Linked DNA regions of Homo sapiens. The protein of the gene in region 1 interacts with the protein of each later gene in a pairwise test. Each region holds a gene or a part of one and is shown on either strand. Other genes may lie near its edges. The genes, in order: ITPRIP and PGRMC2.

Evidence for each region.
Region 2: the proteins of ITPRIP (region 1) and PGRMC2 interact in binary tests that used the Homo sapiens proteins (3 or more experiments, as listed by UniProt).

What each region holds. Positions count from the first base shown.
Region 1 is NC_000010.11:104,311,584-104,314,546, reverse strand, and holds part of ITPRIP (inositol 1,4,5-trisphosphate receptor-interacting protein precursor), read left to right. Parts: coding exon 1-139; 3' UTR 140-2,963. UniProt on the Homo sapiens protein: Enhances Ca(2+)-mediated inhibition of inositol 1,4,5-triphosphate receptor (ITPR) Ca(2+) release.
Region 2 is NC_000004.12:128,270,609-128,274,438, reverse strand, and holds part of PGRMC2 (membrane-associated progesterone receptor component 2), read left to right. Parts: intron 1-1,921; coding exon 1,922-2,077; intron 2,078-3,025; coding exon 3,026-3,123; 3' UTR 3,124-3,830. UniProt on the Homo sapiens protein: Required for the maintenance of uterine histoarchitecture and normal female reproductive lifespan. May serve as a universal non-classical progesterone receptor in the uterus.

The DNA.
Region 1 (2,963 bases):
CTTCCGGCCCTTCGTCCTGCAGCGAAGCCTTTACCGTAAGACACTGGACTCCTTCTATGAGATGCTCAAGAATGCCCCAGCGCTCATTAGCGAGTATTCCCTACATGTCCCCTCAGACCAGCCTACCCCAAAAAGCTGACGTCTTTTACAGAATGTGGGATCCTCGAGCTAAGATGAGGGCATCCCTCACGTTCACACCCCTGGTGGCATCTGCCAGCCCTGTTCTGGGGACAAGGCGGGCTTTCGTGGGAGCCGTGCTCAGCCTGCCAGGAAGCCAAGCCCTACAGTGCAGAGGAAACAGAATTTCAACGGGAAGCTGGTTTGCTTCATACCATTGGGATCTGCTGGTAAAGCTGTTATTTGGGTTTAGGGACTGATCCCTTGCAGTTTACTTCTGGATCACCATGAATGGCCAAGATGGTGGCAGAACACGCTGTGGACCCTGAGTTAGAGACAATGCAAATGTTGGATTGGGTGTAATTCTTTTTGAATCCCAGATCCAGTCTGTACTTGAATATGAGCAGAGGATCTACAAGAATGCTGACAGGGAACCGTGTTAAGACCCAGCACCCCTATTCCCAGGAGCTTCTGGCCTGACCATCTGCAGCCAAAGCACTAACAGGGACAGATATGGGAATGTCCACCTTTGATCCGCATCCTGCACAATAGTGGTCCCACCATGGCTGCCACTTTTTTATACTATTTGGAGAAAAGACCTTGTATAAATTCGAGGCCCAAATGACTAACGTCTCTGTCACACGGAAATGGGTACTTGGTGGCATAGAGAAACACAATTAGCCACTTTTTCAGCTACACTTCTCACTCAGCTGCACCCTACACTTCTCACTCAGGTGCACCCCCTTCTGCTGTCCTTTCCCCAACGTACTGGGTCCCGAGCGTGGTGGGTATTTGCCACACTGGGTGCCAGCTCAGCAGCCCCCCACCTCTCTTTATTCTCTCCAAAGCTGGTCTTTCTGACTATCATTGTGGTAGGGGGAGGACAGATGCTAAAGGTGGAAGCTGACCTGGAGAAAGAGACACACGGGGTGACTGTGGCAAAGGACAGCTGGAAAAGAAACTCTATCACTTCTTCATTGGCAACCACAAGGCACCTGAGGCCATGGCACTCCCAGAGGCTGTGCGCAGAGCCAAGCCTCTCAACCTCTTCTGGCCCTGCGTCCTGCAGCGAAGTCTCTGCTGTAAGACAGTAGACTCCTTCGATGAGGTGCTCAAAAATGCTACCCGGGGTGGTGGTGTCTGGCTTGCAGTCTGGCCCAGTTCAGAGAAAGTTGCAGAGATCAGGGGCCAAGGATGTCATAGCCCCAGGTTGTCCTCAGGGTCCCAATCCTAGGGCAGGGTGTGCATGGAAGCAAGAACTATGGAAACCTAGCTCCAGTCTGCAGGCTCTGAGCCCCTAGTTCCTCACTCCAGCGGGGCTCCCTCACTGCACAGAACCCACCCCTTCTGTGTGGGCACTGCTGACCACACAGATGACCCAGACCCAAAGAGCCTGGCAGAAGCTCTGTGGTTGGAGCTGGGCTCCGTCTCCAGGTCTGGTTCAGGGGGATCAGGAAGGCTCTTTTCCACCTGTGGCTTCACTGGCCCTTTGAGATTTCCTATCTCACCGTTACTTCAGTTACCCTTGCAGGGGGCCAGGGAGTCAAGAATATACCGTGTTCCTCCAGGGTTTAAGCCGGCCATGCCTTCCCGAGAGCATAACCAACTTGACAGGGGTGCCCAGTTACCCCACAAACTGAAGGAAGGAGATCCTTCCCCCATCCCCAGGAGTGCTCTCAACCAGCCTCAGAAAGCTTGAGAAGATGGACCCTTTGCCCACCAGGGTTAATTCCTGGTGGGGCAGCTCGGCTGTGATCAGGGCAACCAAACCTATAGGAAGCCTTCCAGTGTGAGCTGGAATTAGACTGAACATGTGCTTGGGCCTGCCTCTCCCTAGACGCAGTTGCGGGGCACTCCAGGGAATGAACCAGCTCAAGTGTGTCCCTAACAGCAGCCTGGAGCTACCCCCAATCCCTCACAGCCTGACCCTCCTCATTCCATCAGATGCATTTGTAGAATCGGGGCAAATTTCCTTATTTATTTATGGCCCATGCCTTTCCCCCTCTTCATCCTGATCCCGTTTTGCTTTGAAGAGACCCCAGTAACCAAAAAACAGCCTCCAGAAGCCAAAACCATGCCTGGATCTCCCATAGCTTCTCCTTTGCTTCCAGGAGAAAGTTCACTGAAAAAAAAATATCTTCTGGCTTCTTGTGTGTACAGAGACAACAGAACTCGGTGGGGAAACGGGAATCTTTTCTGCACCAAAGCTGCTTCTAAAGCAGAAAGCAGTGGGGCTCTTGGTGTTTCATGCTGCCTTATTTATATTAAAGGAAGAATTAAATCTTGCAAGGAGTAGAAATGGTCACTGTTTGTTTTTAACTTCAGGAAATCTGTGAGGCTCCCAGGGCAGAGTTGGGGACAGGGGGGTGGATTTCCTATTGACAAAGCAGAAGCTTTCACTCCCTTTTTATTCTTACACTTTCAGGAGACTTTAAAAAATAACAAAACAGAACATTTCTACCCTGTCTTTGAGGCAACTTGTGTGCTGCCCGCAGGGCTCCAGAAAGGGCCTTTGAAAGCTGGCTGTAGGGTGGATTCCAGCCTAAGACCTTATTTCACAGAGCTAATGTCAGCGAGAAATATAGGAGCTGGAACTAACAGGAAGCTTTTGGGTTTTAAAGAAAGAGATTGTATTTTAAATAGAGGATTTTGAGTCCTCTAGGGGACTTTGGCCTTTCCACTAAGGACAACCCTGCCCTCTTTCCCCAGAGTCTCTTTCCCAAGGATGCTTGACTTTCCCCAGCAACTGCTCACTTGCTTTGCAAAATAACAAGGGTGAAATGAATAGAGTTGGCCCCTAGGCCAAGAGGCTGGTTATGTTGGGGAAGGGCCTTATATCCTCAAAA
Region 2 (3,830 bases), on another chromosome or scaffold:
CCTGGATTCAAGCAATTCTCCTGCCTCAGACTCCTGAGTAGCTGGGATTACAGGCGTGCGCCACCACAGCCGGCTAATTTTTGTAGTTTTAGTAGAGATGAGGTTTCACCATGTTGGCCAGGCTGGTCTCAAACTGCTGACCTCAACACTGCTGCCACAGAGTTGGGATTACAGGCATGAGCCACCGCACCTGGCCTGGTTAATACCCTTTTGAATGTCAGTTGAGATGATAGAAAAAGTTTGAAGGTTACGAATATTGGCCAGTGGTAAATTGTGTTCCATATTCTTATATAGAAGACACATTTGAAAGTATAAAATGGTAGCCTATGTTAATAAGACTGATTAAATAAATTACAGGTACACATCCATTCAGTGGGATAATATATAACCATTCAATGATAAATAATTGTTGATAGTCATGTGATACGATGTAGCAATATGGAAAATGCAATAAGAATAAGAAAAGCAGAATACAAATGTACTTTACTGGAACTGTTAGCTTTACTTTCATGTTACTGTATCAATACCTATGAATGCTACTCTTAAAATTATTGCTAATGCTACTTCTAGTTCCATGCAGTAAACTTTTCAGAGAATGAATTTCACATCTGGTTAACTTTATAGTACAGTGCTGTTAGCAACTCAAATTAATACTCATAAATGCTTAGATATCTATTTAAGTGAAACCTCGATTTCTACTCTCAGAAGGTACAGAGACTTTTTGACACATAACTTTCAGTTTCCTAAATACTTTTATATATGAATATAATCATTTCGCTCATTTAAAAATCAAGGAATTTCTAGTTTTTTCTGCTTGTTTACTTATCAGAACATACTTTGTTCTTTTATTTATAAGCCCTGTTTTTCACCACTCTGTTGTTGTTGTTCATAATAGTGTCTTTGCCTACCATAAGTGAATCTGTTTACAGAATCTTGAGTTTCTTTTTATTCGGAACTACAGCTAAGTCATTTGGAAGAAAATTATTACGTTCCTACTTTATGCCAGGCACAGTGCTAGGCATTGAGGATACAAATCCTCAATTGATGAACAAATTGCTGTTCTCAAGGACAAACCTTGGGAATGGTTTTTGTCAACACATCAGTCATGCCATTTCTCCTCAGAGAGAATGGTACCCAATTCCTTGGATAAAATGCTAATTATTGCTTAATGTGTCAGTCCAGAAGAATTATTCCTTATAGCTACTTCCTCTGTTTTCCAAAAGTCATGACAAGTAAGAGCTATTATTTTCCTTAATGACTTTTCCTAGTTTATATAGATCATTGTATATATATTATGGTAGTCAGATGATTTATTTTGAATATGGGTCTTTTTTTATTAAACCACTCAGCAAAGATTTATTAAATGCGTGTTGAGCACTGAACTAGTCACTGGGACCACAAAGATGATACAGTCTCTTTTCTCATAGAATTACAACCTTCATAAGGATAGCAGAAAGAAAAATGTTACAGATTCAAGTTCAGCTGAGTCTTTACATAATACATGATGTTCTGTTGATTATTTTTATTTTTTTGATGCCACTATTAACAGCAACCAGTAAACATTATTTCCCCTCAAGCAGACTGGCTTCTAAACCTAACCACTTAAGTTTCTTCTTCTCCCTCATTACCTCACAGTCTTCATTTTGAATATTAAGTTTGGGGATATCTGAAGTAATTGAAATTGAGGGTTTTAAGATCTAAGTGAAAAGCTTTACTTGGGTCAAAAGGCAGATTTCCAACAAATTTCTTTTCTTATTCCATCTAGTATCTGTACATGTTTTGAAATTAAGGGTATATACAAATGTGAATTATGAGGGGTTTTTTTCTTTGTTGTGTTTTTTTTTTTTTTTTTTTACTTTTTCCTTTGAGACATTCTAAAATATTGTTAGGTGATCTAAATAATTTATTTTCTTTTTTCCAGCGGGTCCATATGGAATATTTGCTGGTAGGGATGCCTCCAGAGGACTGGCCACATTTTGCCTAGATAAAGATGCACTTAGAGATGAATATGATGATCTCTCAGATTTGAATGCAGTACAAATGGAGAGTGTTCGAGAATGGGAAATGCAGTTTAAAGGTATTTTTATTTTGTTGGATTCTTTGGAAAATTAAATATTTGTTCAAAGAAAATATATACTATTTTACATGCTTTAAGAGCCTAAGGATGTCATCCGTTTTCATTGCCATCATTATTTGATAATATTTTTAAAGATAGCTAAAGCTGGGTGAAGTGGCACATGCCTGTGGTCCTAGCTGCTGATGGGAATCCCTTGAGCTCAGGAGTTCAAGGACTAACCTGGGCAACATAGTGAGACTTGTCCAAAAAAAGAAATTGCAAAAAATAGCTAAATAAAAATATGATTGTTACATGTGATAATTATTTTGAAAATCAATATTTAAAAAAATGACTTGTTACAAATTCTAAGCCTCAAAAATTGTGATACTTACAGTCAGCTTCTTCATTAAGGTTTAGTTTTTTAAAAATACAGGCTTATATTTAAAACTGAGTTGATTACTGATTTCAATACTATAATTTATTCCAAAATGATTTTACAGATCTTAACACTCGAAATGTAGATAAAAAATATCTTTCCCCTTTCTTATGCCCTCATAACATCAGTTTTTACCACTTGTGTGATGCTGTCCCAGCTGTTTATCTGACCCCTGGGTCCCTTGGAACAGCTGTTCTGGTTTAGCTGGGTACTGAGATGGGTCCTGGACTTACTCATTTTTAAAAAAGATCTCCAAGTGATTCTGATGCAGTATCCAACTAAGAATCACTGGTACAGAACACCCTCTTGCAAAGAATTCCCAAGCCTTATAAGTTCCCTAATCCTGTTTTCTTTTGTTCAGGCTTTACATGTGTATAAAGACCAGCCATGGTGAAGCAATTTTAGAATATTTAGATAATATTCTAATAATCATATTTTATATGATTCTAAAACAGACAAATGCCTTTTCTCTGTATAATGGAATAGTGAAACAAATTTGATCACCACTGATTTTCTTTTGATGTATCTTTCAGAAAAATATGATTATGTAGGCAGACTCCTAAAACCAGGAGAAGAACCATCAGAATATACAGATGAAGAAGATACCAAGGATCACAATAAACAGGATTGAACTTTGTAAACAACCAAAGTCAGGGGCCTTCAGAACTGCAATTCTTACTCCCTTTCACAGACTGTCCGGAGTCTTTGGGTTTGATTCACCTGCTGCGAAAAACATTCAACAAATTGTGTACAAGATAAATTAATCTCACTATGAAGATTTGAATAACTAGACATTATTTATGCTGCCAAACTCATTTGTTGCAGTTGTTTGTAATGTCTAGTGGGGCTTCATCATCCTGAAAAGAAGGAGACAGGGATTTTTTTAAAGAGCAAGAAAGTCACAATATTACTTCTTTCCTTCCTTTTTTCCTTCTTTCCTTTCTTCTTTCTCTTTCTTTCTTTTTAAAATATATTGAAGACAACCAGATATGTATTTGCTACTCAAGTGTACAGATCTCCTCAAGAAACATCAAGGGACTCCTGTGTCACATACTGTGTTTTTATTTTAACATGGGTGAGGGAGGCGACCTGATCAGGGGAGGTGGGGGTACACATCAATTTGAGTTGTTCAGGCTACTGAAACATTAAAATGTGAATTCCCAAACTTTTCTTTTTGGCTTTGTCAGGGAAAAGAAAAATATCTTTATAAAGAAATCTTTGGAAATTAGGAGAAGGAATTTCAGGTGGGTTTAAGTCAGAGCTAGTTCCCCAACAGAAAGATCATTTGAAACCAGTTTTTATCCCTTCTCTTTCCTTCCCTTTCCCTAAATCAAATCA